Regions from separate parts of the Homo sapiens genome. Here all the other regions are linked to region 1. Evidence: fine-mapped expression QTL. A gene starts in region 1. Each other region holds a variant in brackets. All regions are shown on one strand. Distances are between the middles of the regions. Region 1 holds the start of DPYD (dihydropyrimidine dehydrogenase). Region 2 overlaps DPYD (dihydropyrimidine dehydrogenase). Region 3 overlaps LOC124900404 (a long non-coding RNA gene). Region 4 overlaps DPYD (dihydropyrimidine dehydrogenase). Region 5 overlaps DPYD (dihydropyrimidine dehydrogenase).

What was found. PIP is the estimated chance that this variant, and not a neighbour inherited with it, causes the effect.
Region 2: its variant is fine-mapped to the expression of DPYD in blood mononuclear cells (TOPMed, PIP above 0.99).
Region 3: its variant is fine-mapped to the expression of DPYD in whole blood (TOPMed, PIP above 0.99).
Region 4: its variant is fine-mapped to the expression of DPYD in whole blood (TOPMed, PIP above 0.99).
Region 5: its variant is fine-mapped to the expression of DPYD in whole blood (TOPMed, PIP above 0.99).

The regions. Positions count from the first base shown.
Region 1 is chr1:97,917,901-97,923,012 of GRCh38, reverse strand. DPYD (dihydropyrimidine dehydrogenase) reads left to right here and starts at 1,979. Exons shown (of 23, transcript NM_000110.4): 1 at 1,979-2,129. The coding sequence starts at 2,091. RefSeq lists a silencer at 1,774-2,173.
Region 2 is chr1:97,710,273-97,715,384 of GRCh38, reverse strand. The region is part of intron 5 of DPYD (dihydropyrimidine dehydrogenase); the gene reads left to right. Among named protein-coding and RNA genes, the nearest start is that of DPYD-AS2, 84 kb to the left of the region's middle. The variant G/A (reference allele first, on the strand shown) is at 2,969.
Region 3 is chr1:98,081,909-98,087,020 of GRCh38, reverse strand. The region is part of intron 1 of LOC124900404 (a long non-coding RNA gene); the gene reads right to left. Among named protein-coding and RNA genes, the nearest start is that of MIR137HG, 35 kb to the right of the region's middle. RefSeq lists an enhancer at 1-139. The variant G/T (reference allele first, on the strand shown) is at 2,617.
Region 4 is chr1:97,697,642-97,702,753 of GRCh38, reverse strand. It overlaps DPYD (dihydropyrimidine dehydrogenase), which reads left to right. Exons shown (of 23, transcript NM_000110.4): 6 at 3,207-3,403. Among named protein-coding and RNA genes, the nearest start is that of DPYD-AS2, 97 kb to the left of the region's middle. The variant G/T (reference allele first, on the strand shown) is at 2,590.
Region 5 is chr1:97,594,488-97,599,599 of GRCh38, reverse strand. DPYD (dihydropyrimidine dehydrogenase) reads left to right here. Exons shown (of 23, transcript NM_000110.4): 9 at 4,434-4,541. Among named protein-coding and RNA genes, the nearest start is that of DPYD-AS2, 200 kb to the left of the region's middle. The variant A/G (reference allele first, on the strand shown) is at 3,026.

The sequences.
Region 1 (5,112 bases):
CCAAGTGTTCTTGGTCTCTTATGCTTCAGTCCTGAGCTAGGAACTGAGTATCCAGTAAACAATAAAAGTACACATGGGCCCCCTCTTCCTGGAGCTTCCTCTCTAAATAGAAGACATATATTAAATGAATCACATTCAAATAAATATTTAAACAACATTTGAAAAGTCTATGAAGACGAAATATAATGAAAAAGACAGAGTGGGTGTAATTTTGTTGGTGATGGGGTTAGATCATAAAGGCTTCAGTGAGACCTAAATGATGAGTAGAAGGGGAAGAAGAGCTCCAAGTGGAGGGCAATGTGCAAAGGTAGAGAAGTGGATGGAGGATGAGAAGATTACCTTGTGGTTGGAACATAATGAGTCAGGGCAAGAGTGGCGGAGAAGCGGAGTAGAGCAGGTTATTCAGCGGTTACTAGGGAGTTTGTATTATATTCTGACTGCAATGGACCATTGAAGGATTTATACCATGGGTACCTGGGTGTGTGGATGTATCGTTGTATGGCATGAGCCAGTTAATACTTTCTAAAGCTCAATCTGGTATGGATATGAGGTAAGAATAGAAGCTAGAATACCAGTAGCTTGGACCATGGTGGATGCAGCAAAATGGAGAAATGAATGATTCAAAATCTATTTAGGAGGTTGACTTCTGAGAGTTTGGGCATAGATTAAATGAGGCAATAAGGATAAAGGAGTCAAAGATGATTCTAAGGTTTCCATTTAACTTTCTAGTGTCTGTTAATATTTGATTCAAGAAAAATGTATCTGTCTTTTAGTAATTTCCAGGTTCTGGAAGGTAATCTGATGGTTTGTTCAGAGAAGCCTTCTCAACCACGCAAGGTACCCATACCCTAGTTATTCTGTCCTATTTTTCTTTTATCTTACAAGCAGGCATCACATTTTCTTACTTGCTTATTTTGAGTATAATCTCCATGACAGTGATGTGTATTCTTGAAGACTATATCCGGAGAACCTAGCACAGTGTCTGTGTCTGGCATATTGAAAATGCTCAATAAACATATTCGTTGAATAAAACGATGAATGGACTAATGAAAAAATAATAAGGGAGAAATACTTGACTCCAAGGTGTCACTACCTAGCCAAGTGCATGAAGGAGTGCCGCAAATGTCCTAACGGAAGTAGAAAGTGTTATGGTAGAAGAGAGGTGGGATGCATCTAACAGGGGTGGGGGGGGGGCGGGGAGAAAAGGAGAGAGGTCTGGAGTACACATATCCTCAAAAAACGAGGTGAATGTTTTCTGGATTGGGACCAACTCTACAGGAAATCTCTCCCTTCTCCTCAGCAAGCTCTAGAGCAAAAACGAAGAGCAACTTTTCAAAAGAGTTTCACGTTTTAGAATAAAAAATATTTAAAAAAATAACCATTAAAATGAGACTTTCCTGCAAAAAGACAACCTTGATTATGTACCACCTGCAGCACTTCCTGTATGCTGCTGCGGGCTGTGGATGTTTTTGCTCGCCTCCCTCCCCTCCCCGCTGGGGCTGTGAACTCTCAGAAGACCGGTGCTTTGGTATCCTCCACTGCAGCTCAAACCCCGCCCACCTACTTGGTGGATGGATGGAGGAACATCTACTATTTCATCCTTGAGGAGTTCCTGAAAATGCAGTTGCCCCTCAAACAATGTATCTACATCTCGCGGGGTTTCTGTGGAAGAAAAGAAAAAGTGCAAGTTGTTGCTTGGAGCGCGGACTGCTTTTACCTTTGCCTGGGGATCCCTCCTATCTGGCCCCGCCTGCCTAGCTCTGTTTTTAGCAGTTTAGAGATTAAAGGCCAGTCCCCAGAGCGGGTGCTCTACTCCCTCCCTCCCTTCTGCTTGCAGGCTGGGGCGCGGAGCGGGCTGAACTGGGAAGGCCGGGCTGCGGCTGCCGTGCCTGGCGCGGGAGCCGCAGGACCGAGAGCGCAGCCCCGCCCCGGGGGCGTTGCCGCCCCGCGCCCGCTCCGCCCCCGCGCCGCCGGCCCTAGTCTGCCTGTTTTCGACTCGCGCTCCGGCTGCTGTCACTTGGCTCTCTGGCTGGAGCTTGAGGACGCAAGGAGGGTTTGTCACTGGCAGACTCGAGACTGTAGGCACTGCCATGGCCCCTGTGCTCAGTAAGGACTCGGCGGACATCGAGGTACGGACTTCGCGCCGGCTCGTCGGTGGTGGCGGGGTGGTGGGGAGTGCTCTGCGGGTAGGTGCCGGGGAGGCCCCCGCGGCCCCCGCACCCCGGAGAGTGAGAGACGCGGGAAAGTTTCCCCCGTGGGAGCTCTGCGGGGGAGCGGAGGAGCGCGGAGCCACAGGCCCGCGTGGGCAGGCGGGGAGCTCAGGGGAGGACTTTCCGCTACTGGAGGGGTTGCCCTTTGCGTCGGGACCTGTTTACTTCGGAAGAGATTTCAGGAAGCCTGTCTTGTCCTCCTCTGAATGTCAGTGACTGAAGAAGCACTGGAGTTCCAGAGAGGTGGACTCTAGGGGGTAGGAGTGCCCATTTCCCACACGTTCTACCCCTTCACCTCCTGTATGTCGTTTCTGGACACCTCCACTGCCCCCATTTCCAATAGCTGAATCCTGCTATTTGCAAAGGTGAAGCATAGAAATAAAACATCTGTGTGTCAGCTGTAGCAGTCGCCTCTAGTCATAGTATTGTTTATGAAATAATTTAACATGGAGAGAATGGAACGAAGTATTCAGAACATGAAAAATGCAGTGCCCTCAGAAAAACTAACTGTATTTTTCTCTCCTCTCAACGGTTTTTGATTCCCTCTTGCACTCCGTTTCTGTTAAAAAAAATCTTTTTTTATGTAAATAAGGTCCTACCTGAAACGACATGGCATTTCCTTTCTCTCTAGTATCTTAATATATGCGATGAAAAGGATTTAATTATCAACAGTGATTTTACACATACTAAACCTAGGTCAGCACTTTTGAGCTAAGACAAACTGATTTTTAGTTTTCTGTTTTGTTTGGGGCTTTTCTTTATTTGAGTCTTCTACTCTGGTAGAAAATTATGTGTGTGTGTGTTTTCTTTAGAAATAACAAAATTTTCCTTTCGTCAGTCCTTTTGGCGGCTTAAGTAAAAGTTTTGCAAACCACCTGTTTGCAAAATAGCTGCTTTTGCCACATTTTGCCTCCGTAATTGAAGAAACTTTATATTCTGGGAGGAAGTAGTCCTGTTTTCTCCAGGCTCCATAACTTGGTTTGAAAAATCATTTTAGTAACAAGAGCCAAAGTGTATTATGTGGACATCTCTGGTTAGTTTACTTTTGGTTTCTGTTTTGGAGAGTTGACTTTTTGATATTGAGCAATATGATATATTTAACAAATAGTTGTTCATCTGTGTGCAGGATAATAGATACTTGTCTTTTTCTATATTTCATTTAGGGTAGTCTATTCCTTTTTGGTCCTTGTGACTTTGACTTAACTTTTTAAAAAATTTTATTTACTAAGTCGAAAAACAAGCTTCTGACAGTATTAAGGCAGTATTGATTTAAGATATCGGAGTTGACTTAGGATGGGTGGCTTTTGGCTCTTTAATTTCAGAATGGTGTGTTATCTGCTTAACTGATTTCTTTCTCTGCAGTTGTCTTCGAAATCAGTTCTTACATTCTACTGAGGAGAAAGATGCCAGTGAAACATTGAATGCCAAGCTTGATTTCATATATTGTTTCAACTAAGAACATTTAAGAAGCCCATCCTTCCCACTCCCTCCACTCAATTCAACCTTAGTCTATATGGCCAGTTTGCCTAATATTACTTTTAATCTAGATTGCTGGTGTTCAAACACCTTCAGCTCTTATGTAGTTCATATGTGCAACACTTTAATCAGTAACATCTTTCATCACTCACAGCACCTTACTTTTCCCTCAAAGTAATACCCGTGATTCATGAGCTAGAATACCATGAAAGAGCATGAAATTAATCATTAAAATATAATGCAGTGAGGAAAAATACATTAAGCTTAGGGGAGCACATTCAAGCATAAATGCCTCAGTTGATCCTATTGATTTACCAAAGTTCATTTTTGTGTTGAAGAATTAGAATGAATTATAAAGGCTCAGTTTTCCATCAAATTTGAATGCTTTTCTTGAACAAATTCATTACAACCATTGTCTAGAGATCTGATTGTGATCATTGTTTTAGCTTCAAATACATGGATAAGCAAGTAATATTTTAAAAATATTGGTATGAAGCAGTTAATGAATGTGATAAGAACACATTGATAAATGTGAAAAGTACTTGACAATTGTTAAAAGAACAGAAGGTGATGATAACAACCTACTCTAATAGTGACTGACTTTTCCCTATGAGCTAACTACAGAACCTCAGGTTTCAGTGAAACAGCCAAGAAATATCTTTGTTTCTGGGGGAAAAGTTATTGAGGTATATATAAAGGTGCTTTGTGTGCCTGCTTCATAATTTCTAGTCTGAATCCAATATCACATCAGGATTTGACGGTTAGGAACATGGAAAACAATCAGATCACCAAACTCCATAGCTGGAATATCCCTGGGCTGGGAGATAGGCAAGGAAAGGATGTGTTACTTGGTAATAGGACCTAGCTCATTACTCAGAATTGTTGTTGTTGTTGTTGTAATCATAGAAGTTGCATGAGAAATCATGTTTTTTTTCAGATATATTAATGTGGTTCAGAGCCTGGCTTCTGAAACCAACTGCCTCTGATTGAGGTCTAACTTTAAGCTGTGTGTTTGGGCAAGTTAGCCTCTCTGAATTGCACATGGAAAATCTGCTAAGGATAATAAACAAATGTCACAAGTTGACAGCATCTTGTTGGGAAAAAGGACAAAAATGTTAAAAAATAAAGATAACAGAAAAATATATCTTATTCTCAGGAAAATCACTTCCAATGAAATGATTAGCATTTTAAAGTCCGTTAATAGTAGTTATATGCTTTTAGAAGTTATTTTGCTTTGTGAGTGTACTGTTTGGATACAGTCTGAATTTTGTCAACGATGACTTTAATACAAACTCTCCTGGGATGGTTTCAAAGAAGGTTAGTATTGGACATTGGTCACTTTCCCAGGCCTCAGCAGTAACTTAACAGCACTTCTTCATTTAGATTGAATTTACAGCCAGTATATTGTGAATATCTGCACACTTGA
Region 2 (5,112 bases), 210 kb after region 1:
CATATAGGTTTACATTGGCATCCTTGGACTTATTGTCCAATCTTCATTAATTTTTGTCACATGGTTTTGGAGGTGATTAGACCTTAGTGCAAAGAAAAGTATCAGGCAAGGAGAAAATGCAGTTATATTGTACTTTGCATAGTGCTTCAGTGCATTTTTGTAATATCTCACTCAAAAATGCTGATAAACAACGCTTGAGGGCATGCAAACCAGGTAATTTTTTTCCCATTTTGGACATAAGGAAACTAAGAATCAAAGTGATTACAAAATCACAGCTAATGTTAAATAAACTCCCAGTGTCCTGCACAATGTTGAGTACTTTATTTAGAGCTTGATTAATCCTCAGAATAACTCTCCAAATAATGTTATTATTTCCATTTTACATATGAGTAACAGGAAACTCCAGGAAATTAATTAACTTCCACAACCTCACATGTAGTGAGAGGCAAATCTGGAATACAAAGCTAGTGGTTTAATTTTCATTATTTCACAAACTCTTACTTGCCCCAGGTAATGTTACTAGTCAAAGACAGAGGCGCTCAATGTAAACCCTGGTTTTCTGGCTGTAAGGCCACAGCAGTATCTGTTGCATCTTCTAGGCTAGCCAAATATACTTGGTCACCATACCTCACAAGTCCTTGTTTTTCTGTTAGATATGAAGCTACTACATTGAAATAGGTTGGGTAAGACCAACACATACGGCTTAGTTGTTTTTTTTTTTTTTTTTTTGTCTTTTCTTTTTTAACTTCTGTAGCCAGGAATGAATCTTAAGTTTTATGGGGCTTCAGATAACAAAATGTTGGGTTCCTTCTTTAGAAATTACATTACAGCACTACTGAAAAATTTAAATACAAGGCCTTAGAAGGGGTCTATATGGGCCAGGCGTGGTGGGTCATGCCTTTAATCCTAGCATTTTGGGAGGCCGAGGCAGGCGGATCACAAGGTCAAATCAAGACCATCTTGGCCAACATGGTAAAACCCCATCTCTACTAAAAATAAAAAAAATTAGCCAGCTGTGGTGGTGTGCACCTTTAGTCCCAGCTACTCAAGAGGCTGAGGCAGGAGAATCACTTGAACCTGGAGGCAGAGGTTGCAATGAGCCGAGATTGCGCCACTACACACCAGCCTGGCGACAGAGCGAGACTCCATCTCAAAAAATAAATAAATAAAAAGGGGGGGTCTATGTGACGAGGAGCCTTGAAGCGTTAAGTGTTTATCTGCAGTTTTATTTTATTTTGGAATGCCTAAGTATGATTTTGTGAAAGCTGGTATACAAATAAATTTAGGAATAAACCTAGCACATTTATGATACAGTTTGACAAACTGATCAATAAAATCTATCAGTTCATTTTGTAATCTATAACTAAGATAAATTATCATGATAATGAAAAATTACTAATATATATAGCTAATAACTTTTTGCAGGTCATTTATAAATAGGATATAGATTAAACTATATTTGTTAGATTAATGATATATCACACTTGCCCTATTATCCCAAAGTTTTATCACTTTAAATGGGATTTCTCTATACTACTTCTATTTAAAATAGTACTATTCAATTATTTGTGAATGTCTTTAACCAATACCCAACCCTCAAACACAAAGGTGAATTATTTCTGAGAGAAGTAAGATATAGATGAAAAATATGCATTAAGCACTAATAAGATAAATATTTTTTACCCTGGTAAAATGTGTCTGTCTGGAATGCAAATACAAGTAACATCTTTGAAGATTTGATTTGTGTCTCTCCTTTTACTCTTAATGCAGTGATTAATAGAAAAGAATAATGTCTTGATAGAATTCACTAAATATCTGACATTCTTCTCCAAAAATCTTTAGAAATCTATTAAAATATTCCTTACTGGCACAATGATTTATAATAGAACTGTGGGGCCAGATGAATTGCTAGATGATTTTTATTACAATATTTTAGTTTGTTTTAAAACTGTATCTTAATATCTAGGACTTAAAAATAAGCTACCGTGATTTGGGGGCAATAACTTTGAAATTTAACGAAATCGCATGGTTAAAATTATTTGCGGTTACTTTTTTCTACATTAGTTTTTAAAAATAAATGTAAATTTATACTATTTCGTTGCCAATTTACAGTTTTAAAGGATTCGTTGGTTTAAGCTTCAACAACTTAAAAATGTATATACTTTCATAAAAATATTTGATGACTCATAATATAGGGTAGTATAAAGCAATATTATTGTATCAACATGAATCACTTGTAAAAGGCATGATGCTGTAAGTTAACATTTAAGCCACCCATTTATCTTCAAATAATGATGATAAGTAAAATTTAATGAAAGTAGAAAAAAAATTAAGAGGTGAACTGAAAAAGAAATATAAATACCTTTTGGGCCAGAAATGGTATAAAAACATGGGGACTAGGTTATTCTCTGCTAACTTCTGCTGGGGAGTGGTCTAAGATAAACTTAAGTGCCAAAAACATCTTGCATGGTAGAGGACTGGACTCAGCTCCACCTCATAGAAAGTTTAATAAAAAATAGGTGCAACTGCTGTACAGAGCTGAGGCTTATAGAAAGCTGCAGAAAAAAGTAGAGAAAGCTGTACAGCAGGTATTGTGGGCATGTGTCTATGGTACAGTGATTTGGTTCTGTGATGCCTCTAATCACCTTGGACTGGAGCCCTGGACTTTAAGAAACTTGGTTCTGCAGTGGGAGAGAGGGATAGGAGTATTGTTGATTGAAGGCCACACACACCTGATACAAAGCCATAGGGGGAGTGCCCCGAAAGAGAATAAAATTCACTCAACGTAAATGAGAAACAAAAAGGTAGAAACTATGTTAGGAAAGATAATCTATTAGTGATAATTTAAAGACTTACCTGATGGTACCTGACTTTATCCTAATGAAACACAAATAATATTATAATCAGGCCTTTAAAATTAATATGTATAAAATAATATCCTAAAAGGAGATAAAATAAAAAAATCAAC[G/A]GTGAGTTTAATATAAAAAATAGTTGACTGTAAATTTACACTATAATGACAATCTCAATAGAAAAGGTCAGTTTTGGGCTGGATAGAGGCATAAATTGCAGAACTAAAGAAATAAAAAGTAAAAATATGATCTGAGTATTCAACCAGAGCACAATAAAGAGATACGAATAAATGAAAAGTTTAATAGAGAAGTTCAGAAGCTTCTAAGACTCCAATACACATGTAAGGGGAGCTCCTAAAGTAGAGAGACAGAGATTGGCACAGGAGGAGCCTTAAAGCAGTTATGGTGGAAAATTTTCCAGAAGAAAGGAAAGATGAAAGGTCTTCACCTAGACACAGGGTTGTGGTAATATTGTGCAATACTAAGGATAATGAGAATCAGAACTTCAAGATAAAGGGAAAACAAATTACTGGAAAACCAAATGACAATTACTCTGACCTTAGATTTCTCATCTGCATCTACTAAGAGTTATTCTTTAGAAGGAAGGAAACAAATGTGGAAAGAAAGATAAAAGAAACAATGTGTAAAAATATGGTTGTGAATATAATTAAATATTGATCCCAGAGTAATTATAACTTATTTTGAGTTTTAAAAATAAAGATGTAAAAAAAAGTTTTATAATATTGACAAGGACGTGTTTTGGAAGATAAAAATAATAATAAAAAACTCTTAAAAGATGTAATATTCATAAACATTTATACACATGACAACATAAATTTACTCAAAATTTGTAAGGTTTATTTGTATAAAGTTTATTGGATTGATTTAAGAAATCTATACTTTTCTGAGCCTAACATAGAACGAATGCATCATTTTCATGCACTTGCAGAACATTTATCAAAACTGACCATGTACTAAAAAACAGTGACTTATAGTCCCTGACTTACAATGATTCAACTTAGGATTTTTTGACTTTAAAATGGTGTAAAAGTGATGCACATTTAGTAGAAAACTTACTTCAAATACTCATTCACCTACTTTATTTTTAACTTTCAGTACTGTATGCGATAAATTACATGAAATATTCAGTACTTTATCTTATAACAGGCTTTGTGGTAGATTATTTTGCCTATCTGTGGGCTAATGTAAGTGTCCTGAGCATATGATTTTGGATAAGTTTCTTATAACTAAACTATAAACACTTAACGTTTTCATCTATATTTGGTCAGTTTTAACCACTCTATTCAATTGGTTTATCAAATATCCAATATAACCTTTGTTTAGTCATAATAACACAGACTATAATCTTATGAGTCAGTTCCTTTGTATAGAAAATGAACAATCATACCTAAAGTCGAAGATTTTTAGGATTGGAGATATAAATATTAAGTTCCCCAGAGAGTGCCTTGTAAGGAAAAGGCATTCATCACAAGAAGTTATCACCATTGACTCTAATCTTCACAATAAATTGCTGAAGTAATCATTACTCTTTTAATTTTCAGTGTTGGTATTTAAAAAGGTGAAGTACTGTCTAATATATATATGTTTTTTTTATTGTTGTTTTTAAGGTTTGGCTTAGGTGTCAATTTCTCTTTCAGGTGGGTTTACCTTCTCAAATACTCTGAGAGCAACGTTTGTGAAAATTAACCCTGTTCCAGACAGGCTACATAGTAATATAGTTTATTAAAAATATTTAGGACATGTGAGTGCTCTATTATCCAGGGAGCTAGTTACTGGAGAGTCTATGTTTTTTTTCATACTGGTGTCTAGGACATAGGAGGTACCTAAACAATACCTACCAAATTGAAAAGGAAATTGAATGAAAGAATATTCTGATTTCAGCTAACACAGTATTTTTAACCTGCCAGTTGTTTCTCTCAATGTCTATTTTAATAATATGAAAATTATGGAAAAAAATCTTTGAGAATTACTAATACAGTAATAATTTTGATAAATAAAAATTTGACATTACATGAAGTTTTTATCATTTTTAATACATTTGAAACACAGTACTCACTTTTGGTGTTCCTGGTCTAATTGTTATGAAGAAAACTATTTGTCAAGAAGCCCAAGTATATTTCTTTTCAAAGAATGAATGCAGTGATTAGTATGTACTCAGTATTTCCTTTGACTTGTCTTACAAAAGGAAACAAACAACAAAGAAAATTACATAGAAGCATCTCCTAGAAGGTATGTAATTTCA
Region 3 (5,112 bases), 160 kb before region 1:
TTTTCTCCTTAGCATTTACTCTTCAGGAGAATTCATCCAGTCTCATATCTAATCACTGACTCATTCTGCAAACATTCAGAGGGTGTTTATTCTATGCATGCCAGTGTCCTGAGCACTGAGTTCACAAGTATGAGTAAGGCAACATACTTGTCCTTAGAGAGCTTAGAATTGAGTTGAGGAAAAGACAAAAAAAAAAAAGAAAAGAAAGCAGTTATTGAGGTGTAGCTAGGACAATGGGCCCTGCAGAGGAGAGGAAGCCTCCTAGATAACGGAACATTTGAATCATAACTTAGTAGAAGATGGTCAGGTATTTAAACATATATATACATATATACCTATATACATATTTAATATGTGATATATGTTTACATAATATTATATATACACATAATATTATATATTATATATGTATATATGTGTATATATTGTATGTGTAAATGTGTGTATATATACACACATATATGTGTATATATTGTATGTGTATATATACACACATATATGTGTATATATTGTATGTGTATATATGTGTATATATACACATATGTGTCCCACATGCCTAAAACTTACTCCTCCTTTTTTTTTTTTTTTTTTTTTTTGGAGATAGTGAGATGGGGTTTCCCTCTGTCACCCAGTCTGGAGTGCATGATCCTGACTCACTGCAACCTCCACCTCCTGGGCTCAAGAGATTCTCACGCCTCAAACTCCTGAGTAGCTGTGACCACAGATGCATGCCACCATGCCTGGCTAATTTTTTGAATTTTTGGTAGAGACAGGGTTTTGCCATGTTGCCCAGGCTGGTCTCAAACTCCTGGGCTCAGGTGATCTGTCCCCCCAGCCTCCCAAAGTACTGAGCCACTTTTGGCCTGGTCACTCTCTCTTTCTTTAAAACAACTCCCCTCTTCTACTTCGCCATTTCTTTAACACTGCAATGGGGCTCTCTGGTCCACTAGACTTGAAAAGCCCACATTCACATTCTATCATTCTTAGGAAAAATATATTTTGCCCATACCAATTATACTGTTACCATTTTAACTTCAGAAAATCCTGGATGGGTGTGAGCGTTTGACTTAAAAAAGTACAAATCCTAGGTTTTCTTGCAATCAGTGAATTTAATCAGTCTGGGGCAGCTTGGGAAACAGGTATTTTTTTTAATATCACCAGGTGACTCTAATATGAAGCCACTTGTCTATGTTCTCATCACTACAAACCTCCATCTAATCTGTCCCTAATCTGTTTCAACAGAAAAATGTCAAATTAATCTTGCAAAAACACTGCTTTAATCACATTTCTCAGATCTAATACAACTGGAACCTTCTCACTTGATCTCTGCAATTTAAAATTCTAAAAAAATTCTGTCTTCTAACAAATATTCTTCATTCATTCATGTAATCAGCTGTTATTCAGTATCTAAATGTTAGGCTCAGGGAACTGATAGTTCTCAACTCCTCACAGTCTTCATTCCAACAAAAAAGACAGACACTATATAACCACAATTAAGTGTGATCAGTCTTAAGACAAGGAAATACTAGACTCTAAAGAAACCCATAACAAGAGAAGTTAGCTTAGTTGTCAAAGATGATCCGCTACGCTTTAAATTGAAACATCATCAAAAATTTATCAGGTAAAATGGAGAGGGAAAGGGACGATTTCCAAAAGGTAGGCCAGCATAAGCAGCATATGGTGGTTAAGTGAGAGAGATACCTCACCACTTTTGAAATGTGGAAATAGTTTCATTTCTAAGGGGGGTAATTTGTAAGGAGAACTGTTAGATATGAGTGAGGCCAGACCACACAGGCCCTTATAATGCAGCTAAGGAGTCTGGACTTTATTCTGAAGGAAATGGAAAATCACTGAGTACTTTTATGCAGGGAGTCATTTGCAAGTTTGTGTTTTTGAAAGATCACTCCAGCAGCAATGCAAGGAACAGATGAAGGGGAAGCAAAATTAGAGTTGGAGAGGACATGTGAGAGACTTGCAGTAATAATGAAAGAGATAGGGAATGGATGGTTTGGATTAAAGAAAATTAGATGGATTGGGAAGGAGTTCAGATTTAGAGTCAACAGTCCTTGGTGACAGCGAATATAAGGAACAGAGTGATACTAGGGATGACTCCCATATTACTGGTTTGGAAAAGTTGGTGAATGGAAGCATGATTTACTGAAGCAAAGAATATTGCCAGCAAAACAGTATTTTCTGTGTTGTCGGGTGGAGAAACGTAATTAACTCACTTTCAGATATTTTAAGTTTGAAGTTTCTTAAAAACAAGTTGGCTCTGAGTGAATGGATATCAGAGTGGTGGGACAACAATCAGGAGTGGCCACAGATGCCAAAGGAAAGGAGGAAAGGTAGTGAATGTTGCAGGAAGGGGCTTATTAGATTCGCAGACCCATCAGTTATTAGTAACCTAAGGGGGAAGGCAGAGTAGAGTGTGCTGAAGAGTGATAATGAAGGGAGAAAATGGACAGTCAGTGTTGAAAACTCTCCCAAAAGTCTGATCAGGGAAGAAAAGAAAGATTTTGAAATAATCAGAGGAAGTGCTGCACTTTACGATGGTTTGTTTTCCTTGGGTCAATGAGTTTGGTAGGAGTTTTGTTTAGTTTTAAATTTGATAAGTAG[G/T]CATATGTTTACATTCTGAAGGAAAGGGCCAGCATAAAGAGAAACACTGAAAATCATGAGGAGACAGTATGTATAACCATGGCTCAAAGTCTATGAGACATTAAGAGAGGGTGAGATCCAGAAAAGAATTGGAGCCTTTAAAAACCTTTATGTAAGGGAAGTTCCTTCTCAATCTTAGTAGGATGGAAACGACTGTCAAATAATAGCTTATTCCAATGCAATTTTAACTATTCCAGAAAACAGTAAGGACAATAAATTTTTTAAAAAAATTAAAAAGCAATGAAAGCATTCATACTAAAACATGAAAAAAATTCAAAAGCATCTACAGAAAAATCTCACTTGTGAATATCAGTGCAAATATCCTAAGTGAGATGTTAAAAAGCAAAATCAAGAAATGGTTTAACATAACAAGAAGAAAAGAGGTGTAGTAGCTGAACATCTTCAGGAATGCCAAGATGGGAGTTGAATGCCAGTCACTGTTGGCATTTAATAGGAAGAAGGGGGAAGACGGAAGAGGAAGGAAATCTATGCCAGGTATTCCTCTTCTTGTTAGGAAAGCAAATATTCTTCTAAGTTTCCCTGGAAGTCTGCTGTTTGTCATATGGGCCATAATTGAGTCACTTGGCCTCTCGTAACTAAAAATGAGGGTGTGTGGTGAGCAATTACCTCCAAACTCAGTGTAGAAGCAGCAAGGGAGCTTGGGATTGAGAATGGCTTGCGAATACTCATCAATAATCTATGCACAGCATGCATTCATTTCTTTGTATTTTACTCTTTACTGTATCTTAATTTACATTTGCAAATCAAAGTATAAATTGATGCTGCTGTAAAAAAATTAAAACTAAAAAAAGAACTACTTTAAAATTATAGTACATCACAAGTAAAACCATCAAATCTATTAATCTAATTCACCTAATTGACAGAAAAAAATTATATAGTCATTCCTTGGATCAGAAAAGACATGACAACATTAAACATCCATTCTAGATTTTTTTAAACATTCATCAAAATAAGTATATATGAATACTTTCTTAACAGTGCATGTGTGTATGTGTGTGTGTGCACGCGCGCGCGTGTGTGCGTTGTGTGTATGTGTCAGAGAGACGAGAGAAATATCAGCCCACAAACTGGCATTCAACCTAATGGAGACATTCTTGCTGAAGTTTAAACAAGAAAAGGATAGTCACACTCACCACTGCTATTTCATTTTGTACTGACAAGAGAAAATAATTAGAGATATAACACTTAAAGGGGGTGGGAAAACTCTTCCTATTTGCAGAAAATTTTGTTATTGGAAAACACAAAAGAATAAAATGGAGAAAAACACTACAAAAGCAAGATAATTGAGAATGAATTAAGATAGCAAGGAAAATAATTAATTCATAAAAATTAGTATCAATCATACGTAGATACAGCAAGTGAGAAGATAAATGGAAAATAATATACATTTACAATAGCCACAGAAAGATAAAATATTATGAAATAAACTTTGAAAAATGTGCCAAACCTATATAAGCAAAACCTGAAAATACTCCTAAAATACACCTAAGCGTGACTGAAGAAATAGAAAGACATATCATGTTGTTGGATAGGAAGGTGCAACATAATGAAAATATAAACTATAAGTTAATTTACACATTATACACAATTCCAATAAAAATATCAATAGATTTGTTGTAGAAATATACAAGCTAATTCTAAGTGTATACGGAAAAAATAAAAAAGAGTAAATTACCAGGAAAACTTTTTTTTTTTTAAAGAACACTGATGTAGGAATAATTCTACTAGGTATTAATCATACTCAAAAGCAGTGCTATCTAATAAAAATATTAACGAAAGCCACCTATATAATTTTAAAACATTTAGTAGCTACAATATAAAAATTTTTTAAAAGGTAGAATTAATTTAAAATATATTTTATTTAAGCCAATATATCAAAACGTTATTTCAACATGTAATCAAAATAAGTTATTATTAATATATTTAAAATTCTTTATTTAAACTACATCTTTAAAATCCAGTGTATAGTTTACAATTACAGCACATCTCATCTCATACCAGTCACATTTCAAGTGCTCAATAACCTATGTATTAGACAGCCTAGCTCTAACAACTAAAACAGTAAATTATTGGCACTGGAATAAGCAGACATGTGAATGAAACCAAATAAAAAATAGATTCAAGTAGAAACGTCAATTTATTATATGATAAGGTAGTATCTCAAATCAGTGAGTCAAGGACAAAGTTTTTAGTAATGGTGCTATAACAAATGGATAAGCATCAAAAGACAAATTCTGATCCTTATCAGTAAACACTAAGTGGACCAAAGACATAAATGTAAAAGGGAAACCATAAAAGTACTAGAAAAAAAATAGACACATTTCTTCATAGCCTTGGAAGAGCAGATTCTATTTGTAACTCAAAAATCCAGAAACTATGAGGGAAAAAGACTAAGAAGTTGCATTACATTTTTTAAAGAAGTCCACAAGGCAAAAC
Region 4 (5,112 bases), 220 kb after region 1:
TTATTTGCATGCCATTAGCTAGAATTTGTTCAGATATGCTAGGCGTTTCAGAACTAACCTATTTCTTGCTTATGAGTGAATGCTGAGCACAAATTATATTCCATTTGGTTATGACACTGTAACTTCATATTATAATGAATGCTGTAGCCTTAGTACATTTAAATCTGCTTCCATTGTAAAAGATGTCAGCAATAAATGATACTTTTAAATACATCATAAATGTCTTCATTTAAGATTTGTTAAAACACAATGTTATTTGTAAATGTTAGCAGATTTTAACATGGGAAAGTTAAATATTTAATTATTAGTTCACAAAGCTAAAATTATTCAACTAAATATGAAAGAAATTAGCATTTATTTAATCCCTAAATAAAATTAGCTATATCTCTGTTCCCTGATCAGAGATCCTTGATCACGTTAAACATATGTTTTAAGTATCTCTTTATGAAAAGTATGTGAAATCTTTCTTTGGGGAAATATAAAAAATATATTTTAACTATATTTTAATTAATGATCTAATAAAATATATATTTATGAAAAGTATGTGAAACCTTTCTTTGGGGAAATATAAAATATATTTTAACTACATTTTAATTAATGATCATATAAAACTACCAGAATTTAGTTCCTTGTTCACATTGCTTAGAAAGGAATAAAAGATAACAGTATATGTTGATTCAAAAACAATATTTAAGAAAATCTGTACTGTTTGGATAGCACAGGGAAGAGCAGGAACACATATTAATAATTTGTAAATTATACAAATTGTAGCTGGGAATAAGAAATTATTTTATTACCAATTTAAACTCATTAGTTAACATATATTCCCCCTTATGTATAAAAACACTGAATATTAAAAGGTGAATTCAAAGATGTTGTCTTCCCTTAAATATTTTATGGTCTAAGAGAGGAAACAGATAAGTAAACCAGTAAAAGTGACAAAGTATTAGAATGAAAATGACAAAATATTATGAGACCATTTATGAGGACCTTTCATCTCATGCTTAGAAATTGACCCTATAATACTTGTTGATAATACCCTCTTCAATTTTTTAAAATAAGATTGTTTGGATGTTCCTTATGTGTTTTGACTTTATTTACAATAGTTTGTGGTATATGTGGGATGAGGTTAAGAAAATGTAAAGTCCTGTCACCTTTATTCCTCATTCTTAAGAAAACTTACATTTATATCTATTGATCTCTGTCTGGGTTTCCAGGAGAGAAAGTTACTGCTTTGACCTATTAAATGCAAGCAACTGTGTGAGCCAATCCATTGGATAGCATAAATAACTTACCTATAATATGGATTTATTCATTGGCCACTTCTATTGGTAGTCAAGTTTTCATGAGAGTAGAATAATGAGATTATAGTGATTTATTTATTTTACTTTTAGTTCTATCAATTTTGCTTTATATATTTAAAATTGTATTTTAAAATCTTGTTGAAAGATTGACCATTTCCTTGCTATGAAATGTTCTTTAAGTTTAGTAATGCATCTTGCCTTAAAGTGTAATATTTCTAATATTGGTATATATATATTTCATATATATATATAATATATATATGTACCAGCTTTCTTTTGGTTAGTGTTTGCTTTGTATAACTTTTTCTAGTCTTTAACTTTACACTTATCTATCTGTGCTCTTATATTTAAGGCATTTATCTTCCATAACTTTTGTCTTTTAATTGGAATTTTAGTCCATTTACATTTAATATAATTTCTCATGTTGACATTTATATTTACCATCTTACCATTTGTTTCTTTGTTTCCTACCCTCTACCACCTATTTATAATAATTTTAATTAATACATTTTAATAATGTGTTTTTAAAATCCCACTCCCTCCTTCCACATTAGCTAGTTATTTTTTTTGCTAAATATGTTTTACTAAATGTACTTAGTAAATTTAATTTTTTATTTTTAACAAATTCCAGCTTTTAATGAAGTTTACATTCTTCTTACATATTTTTGAACATATCAATCATAGTTATTCTAAAATTTATTTTTGATAACCACACTTACGAGATTATGTATGTATCTCTTTCAATTTTTTTAGGTTTATTTTTCTTGCAGGCTTGGACTTTTAAAAATAAAAACCCAGGCATTTTATAAAAAATTTGTAGAAACTGTGGTTGACTTATTATTCACAGAAAGTGCATTCTATCGTTTGGTACATAGATAACAGTGAGGACTGATCACTGTCATTTAAATCCAGGGCTGAGTTGACTCAAGGCTAGGTTGGCTATTTACCCCTCATTTGCCCTACTTGTAGAGTGTAGCCCTCCAGAAGCTTCAGCCGTACACTGAGGTGTGTACTAGGGCTCTTTCTTATTTAGTCACTCCAGTTTTTGTTTTTCCTGGACCATAGGGTTTTCTGTTTAGATCTTTAGGTTTTTGTCATATGCACTTTAAGAATTAATCTCACTCTTCTGTACTTTATTTTGCTCTAGGTTAATGGCCTCCTACATTTCCAAAACTCTGTGTCTCTCTGGTTTCAAAAGACTGCCAACATCTCTTTTCTGAGCTGTGGTTCTCTTCAAGATGCTTAGCCTTCCTCCCTTTGGTAAGAAGTCGCAAATCCCTCAGGG[G/T]AAAAGTGACTTCTGGTCACTTAACTTTGTTCTTACTTTCCTCTGAGATGTTAGCCCTTCCAAGATGCCTGCGTCAGTAGTTCTTGAATGTTTCAACTATTTTTTTAAATCATTATTCTCCCAAAGTTAATCTGTCATAATCAAAAGCAGAATTCAAGAAATTATTTATTAAATGTCTACCGTGTGCCATCGCAATGCTAACTCCTATAATGCAAGGGTAATGTGTTTACATGTGACATGTTTTCTGATTCAGGGAACTAACATTCATTCTACTGACTGACATCATAACACATACCACAGATGGTTATGTTAGAGACATACAGATTATGCTGTAGGAGCTTAGAGGAGAGGCACTTAATGTACCCTCTAGGTGGGAGTAGGGAATGTGCCCCATGAGTGTTTCCTAGAGGAGGCATGACTCTAGAAAGGAAAGACTGAAAGTTAGCCATAACTCCTCATCTACTTGACACAATAAAAGTTGTAAGTATACCATATTAATACTGAAAATGTACTGCTCATTGCTATTTAAAACAAGAATTCGTTTGAAACATTAAAAATATGTTTGAGGATGTAAGCTAGTTTCAAAATTTTAACCATGACAATTGATTTCCCCGTAGGTATTCAAAGCAATGAGTATCCCACAGATCAGAAATCCTTCGCTGCCTCCCCCAGAAAAAATGTCTGAAGCCTATTCTGCAAAGATTGCTCTTTTTGGTGCTGGGCCTGCAAGTATAAGTTGTGCTTCCTTTTTGGCTCGATTGGGGTACTCTGACATCACTATATTTGAAAAACAAGAATATGTTGGTGGTTTAAGGTAATGCCTACATTTATTTCATGTTTATAGTGTCAGAAATGATGGAGCAAAACAATTATGAATATTGTTGGTTCATAATCATATAGGAACTTCAGGCTCACAGATGGTATTTTAAATGTTCTTTTTCCAAATGTTCAAGTTTTGATTACATTATTCACTTTAAAATTTGCAGTTGGCTTGAAGCAATATTTATTTAAAAAATTTTCTCTCTAGTTCTGTGAATTTAAGAGAAATCTCTGCAAATTATTTTTTGATTATAAGAACCAATCATATGAAAAATGATTTTAGCCCTGTGAATATTTCTTTTAATGGAGATATAACTGAAAATCCTGGATATTAGTGATGTGGAAAACCTAGATCCATGGAATATTGGACTATTCATTGTGTTGTCTACATAGATATGTTGTCTTACATATTTTCAGTTTAAAATTTCTTAAGTCTTACTTTTGATTAAAATTTTGTCAGCATGTACTAGAAATGTATTTAAATATACATTTTTAAAATCACATGATCATATTATTCCCATGAAAATTTATACATGGAAATGGGAATATATATTGAAAATAAACAGAACTCTATACGGGACACATATTTCATTATCATAAAGAAATAAAATTTATTACAATTAGGGAATAGATATTGCTTAAAACATTTTATACAAAATAAAGAATTTGGATGGTAACTGAATAATATTACTCAATTGATTTTTATTTTCTCTATGTATATTATCAAAAAAATCATGGATTACAAAATGTATCCATTTGGAATATCTGTTTCTATGCTTAACATTTAAATTTGTTGTGGCTACTGCCCTATGTGTAACAAATAAATTAATCATACCCAATAATCACAGAGGATAAATTTAATCAAATTTGTTACTAAAATTTGTGAAGTTTCTTATGTTTTTTGGCACCAGTGAATATATGTTAATAAATGTATAAATTTCAATATTACTCAAACAACAATATGCTAAGCCCAAGATAATATAAAATTATCAATTATCAATTATTTGTATCATTGATATAAATATGTTGATATATTTATTAACATAAATATTGATGTATAAGCTATCATTAATATAATCTTATTTGACTGAATCATCAAGCAAAAATATCACATTTTAGGAAGACCCTTTAGTGTGGGCATGAAACATAAATAACCTGATTGTTAAGAAATAATTATTCTTCTGTACTGATGTTCCACTACTATGAATTCCAAGAGATTACATGTATTTTATGAATTTATTTTTCTGGAAAGTAAAATGTCCTATATATTATTTCTCTGGAAAGATTTAGAATATCATTTTAATGGTATTTACCACAGCTTTATTAATTAGAAAAAACATAATCTATTAACAATATATGTATAAGCATTGTATGTTGTTTTCAGTTATACACATCAGTGAATATCTGAGTCAATTTTTAAAATATGAACTTAATTGTGTACCCTGGTAAACTAGGAAAAATCTGTTTGCCACTTGATTGCATTTTCACAAAAGGCCTAAAATGGAACCAACCCTATTTGTAACTTACTATGTATTGCCAATTTTGGTAGATTACTGTTGTTAGCCTATCTCTTTTTTAACTCAAATGCAGGATAGGCATTTGTAATTCATATAAATTAGTACTAAACTTGTTTTTTTTAAATTTATTTGCTGAACATTTTTTTAGTGAGACAGAGTTCTCTGGATCCAGACCAAACATGGTGGT
Region 5 (5,112 bases), 320 kb after region 1:
ATTCAGATGAATCCTTTCAAGGACAGGAAGCATCACACAAATGCTTGCATCATTCAGTTAACACTAAACAAGTGGCTTGGTGAAGTAACACAAGCAAACATTATAGAATCTGAGTAATTCTTAAACATGCCCTACCATAGCTATGAAAGCAAAGCCTTAAAAGCTTTTTTTTTTCTCTTATTACTTCCTAGATTTTAATATGTAACAGAACATCTAATATCTTGTTCATGTTAACTGAAGTTGTGCAAAACTTTATGTGAGCACAAGGAAAGAATTTACTATATATACTGCTGTTATTTATTCTGTAGTTGTTCCAGAGGGAGGTGCTTTGGCAACAATGCAAGGATACACATTTCAAAGAATATCAAATAGTGAAAAATAACCAGGATATACCCAAGAGGAATTCACTTAAGAAGGAAAACATTTCAGAAAGGGATTGTACTGGAGAAAATAATCACAAAACAAAAATGCTGACAAGAGAAGCAGCCAGTCCTTTCTCTGTCACTAGATTGGAACCTGGCTGCAGACACATCCTGTGAGGTACGCATATCTGCAGCCTTGTAGAGAAACTTAATACATACATGTTGAATGATTACTTTAGATAGGACTGGTTATGTAGCTTCACATTATAACCTGGCCTAGTTATAACCTTAAACATGAAAAAGGCAGCCATTTTGAACTCATAACATAGACTCTACAACCAGTGTCCACGTTAGAAATTGGCGCTGCTTCTTACATGTTCTGTGATCCTTCAGCGAGTTACTTAATCCCTATATGCCTCAATTTCCTCATATTTAAAATGTGGATAATAACATCAGTTGCCTCATACAATTATTTTGAGAATTAAAATGAGTTATATAATAATCACCTGGGGGCCAGGCATTTAGAGTAGTGTCTGTAGTCAATAAAAGTTAATTTAAATTTTCTGTAACATAAGCAGGATCCTTCCTTCCTTCCTTCGTTCCTCCCTCCCTCCCTCCTTCCCTCCCTCCCTCCCTTCTTTTTCAGAGAACGTGAAAATCACCATTTAAAAATAATTCTTAAGGAGGTGTTCCTTTGTATAAATGCATGCTAAAACACCAAAAACTTCAATAACTATTCTAAAGAAACAAACTATCCGGCCTCCTTGAAAGACAAAGACTATACATATCTACTACGCTGAACTGTTTTGTTTGTCAAATCTTTGTCAATTCATCTTTATTCATAAACTCTCTTTTTCACACTGAAAGGTGAATTAAAAAGTCATTTCAGTGTCATTTTGAAATCATCCTAGTATAGACACATACCTTATTTATTAATATGCCACCTACTCTCAGAGAAGTCTTCCTTTGATAGATGACTATTTGCAAGTTTCATTTTCTTTCATATTTCACTTAAGGTTGCCTCATTTTTCTTTCTTTGTGGAACTTGATTTACATATGCTAAGGTTTAATACTTTATTTTTATTTAAGCTTTTATTCTTTCCTTGCCATGCAATATGAAGTATGAAATAATTGATAAATTATAGAATAAACCTATCTTAATATTAATAGCTAATGTTTAATGAGTATTCACGATGTGCCAGCTCTCAATTATATATATGGTTTATCCATATGGATATATTTTTAATATTTTCATAATTTTGTAATTTTTTTAACATTTTTAAAAAATCTCACATCCATGAGAGAAGTAGAATTTTTATCTCTGTTTTTAGAAATGAAGTAGTGGAAAATCAATTTCAGGGTTCTCCAGAAAAACATAATTAGTAGGATGGACAGATGGGTAGATAGAGATGACTTATTTTAGGGAATTGGGCTATTTAATTGTGGGAGCTGGTAAGTCCAACTCCTTAGCGCAGGACAGGAGACTGGAACTCCCAAGTAGGAGCTGATTGTGCAGACTTAAGACAGAATTTCTCCTTCCTCAGGGAAACCACAATTTTGTTCTTAAGGCCTTTTGATTAATTGATTGGATAGGGCCCACCCACATTATTGAGGCAATCTCCTTAAAGTCAAGTGGTTGTAGATATTAATCACATCAACAAAAGGCTTTCCCAGCAATACCTACCTTAGTGTTTGATTGACTAACGGGTGTTATAGCCTAGCCAAATTGACATCTAACCCTAACCTTCACAGGATTCACAGGAACTTATACAATACCACAGAACTGGTAAATGAGAGAGGAAGGACTCATACCAAAGTCTGTCTAGTGACAAAATCCCTGCTTCTGATCATCCCACAGCACTATGATTAGCATAGACTATCAAAGTATCCACATGGAGACCTTCAGATGCACTGTCCCTGGCCAGAAGGGATGACCTGTCACCCAGGTAGAGGAGGAGGGCTCCGTGGACCTTGAGGCCCTATGTGTGACCTGGGGTGTGGCTAAATAAACTGGAAAGAAAAGCTAATTATATGTAGCATATGTATATGTTGGTTTGAATAGTCAAATGTAGACCTAACTTCAGTCTTCTTTTAACAGGTTTCAGAAGAAATCATTTTGTCATTAGAGAGCCTTCAAGAACATATTCAGCTATTTTTACCAACCCCATCCCTCCAACCCAGGTTTTCTAAAAGAATCACATAAACGGCCACCCATTTATATAATTGTTTCTGTTACTAATATACCTTTTTATGTCATAAAAGGGGGAAACAGTCTTATCCCCATTTCCTTTACAGAGAAGCTGAGGCAAAGGCAGGTGAGGTGGCTCCCCTAACTATGCTACTACATAATGGAAATCATTTTGAAAGCAAAAGTTCTTTTAAAATCATTTATGAGCAAATGCTATGGAAAAGGAGATTCAGGGGATGCTGGATGGGGAAGAAAAATGTTTGGTTTAATCTGAAGAGACAATGGTGGTTTATTGCTGATTACAGGCAACCCACAGAAACCTTCAGCTTTCAGATCAGATATGGCACCCACCTTATCTCATATGACAAAAGTCATCCTTCGGCTATGCTTATTACTCTGTATCTACCAGCAAATGTCCATTGCCCTTCATTTCATTGTAAAATAAACTCCTGCCTCTCTAGAATGACCCATTGGT[A/G]GAATGAGTCTTAGTAATAAAATAAAACTACATGTTTTCCCCTGCATTTATGGAATTGAGATGAATTATTTCTCTACTTGCCTTGGATGGGGTGACTGCTATAAGATTTTCTTCATTTACACTTTGGAAAAAATTTAGTCTGCCATTTATTTTCCTTTCAAAGTTTTGGTAAGAATTTACTAATTTATAGTTGATATATGTACAATGTAGAAAATTTGGAAAATAAGGAAATAATAAAAATTGGAATATCCTTAATACCACCACTCTAAATGATCTCTGTTTAGATTACATGGTTTATATTAATACATTTTTTTACAAAATTTGAATTATACTATACAGAGTTTTGAATCCTGCAGGTTCATTTAAGACTGTATTTTGATTACAATCTTATACCATATTTCTCAAATATTCGTTCTGTTGTCTTTTTCTTTTATACGGTAAAACTAATTTCTTCATTTACCTGACATTCTGGTACTCTCTCATCTTATTTTCCTCTTTCTGTATTAATCATTTTTGTGCATTAAACCTTTATTTGCATGTGTCAGTATTTTCTTAAGATAGATTTAAGACTATTTTCTAGATATTGAACACCAATGTATATTTCCACTGAAAGAGTATGACAAGTTCCATGTCTACCCTTGGTGTATAGTTTAATTTTCTTAAATATTTTTCTTTTTATAGAGAAGTTACAATTTTATTCTTTTAATTTGCAGTTTAATGACTTAATGGAGTTAATATTTTTAGTGCTTATAGGTGATTTATATTTTTTCTTCTCCCAATTTTTATTATTCTTTATGTTTCCATTGAAAAGCTAATATGTTCCTTACTGATTTGGAGAATTTATACAGTAAAGACATTTAATTATTAAAACATCTTCTTGGTTAATAATTTTCGTTTTAATTCATTTATATTTTTTAAATTTAGCAGTGGTTGAATTATTGTGGCAAAATACATTGTTTTTTCCTTTAATTTTTTTCTTTCATTAAAAAAGAAATGATTTTACTTATTCAGGAATTAGATAAATATGTACCCATTTTTAACTTTTTTTATATTTAGTACTTTAATGTAGCTGAAACTGACTTATTTATGATATGAGGCAAGAATATAACCTGATTTTCCCTGTAATGTTATATATGTTTATGTGTGTATATACATATGTTTCCATATATTTATAGGTATACATTAATGTGTGATTTACGATGTGTACTTGGTTATATATTAAAGATATACATAATATACTCTGAGATCCGTTAGACTGTATTATGTACATTTTATATTGATTTGCTTACAGATGTTTTCCTCTAAGAATGACATTATTTCAAAGATTAAAGTTTTCTTTTTTGTTTTAATATCTAATAGGAAAAGCCCCTCCTCCTGCTAATGATATTTTATAAATTTGATTACTTAGGTTTGCCAGAACCCAATAAAGATGCCATCTTCCAAGGCCTGACGCAGGACCAGGGGTTTTATACATCCAAAGACTTTTTGCCACTTGTAGCCAAAGGCAGTAAAGCAGGTATAACATATTGTCTTTTATGCTTAATAGTGAGTATGCTATTTTATTTATGATAAATTAATATCAAAATCAAGCTCAGCAGCACATTGTTCAGCTCTCACACCCAACCTTGCCTAAGACCCAAATGTAAAATTAAAAAAAAAAAGGCCGGGTATAACAGTTTGCCAGAATCATCTGTTTGTTCATTCTTCCAATAAAGTATCATCGTAAGGAATTTTCACTGTAATATATATGTCTAAACTACATCATGAAAAATTGCTTCAAGGTAAGCAAGTCCTTAACAAACATTGGAAGATGTTTTTCAAAGAAATGGCATGAATCGTCACATATCTTATATGATTTGTATCTACACAGGCAGAAAGATTGACTGTCTTCTCTTAAACAGTAATTTTATGATGTTAAAATAAAATACTTTGATAGACACCCTATCACTTTATACACCCCAAGAAGAACCACCTGAATGAAGGTTGTACCTTGGTTTGGCCTGACCAGAGTCATTGTCTTTGGGGAAAATTGTAATATTTTATCCAAAGTCAGATAATCTAAATCCTTCAAATGTATATTTTTAAAG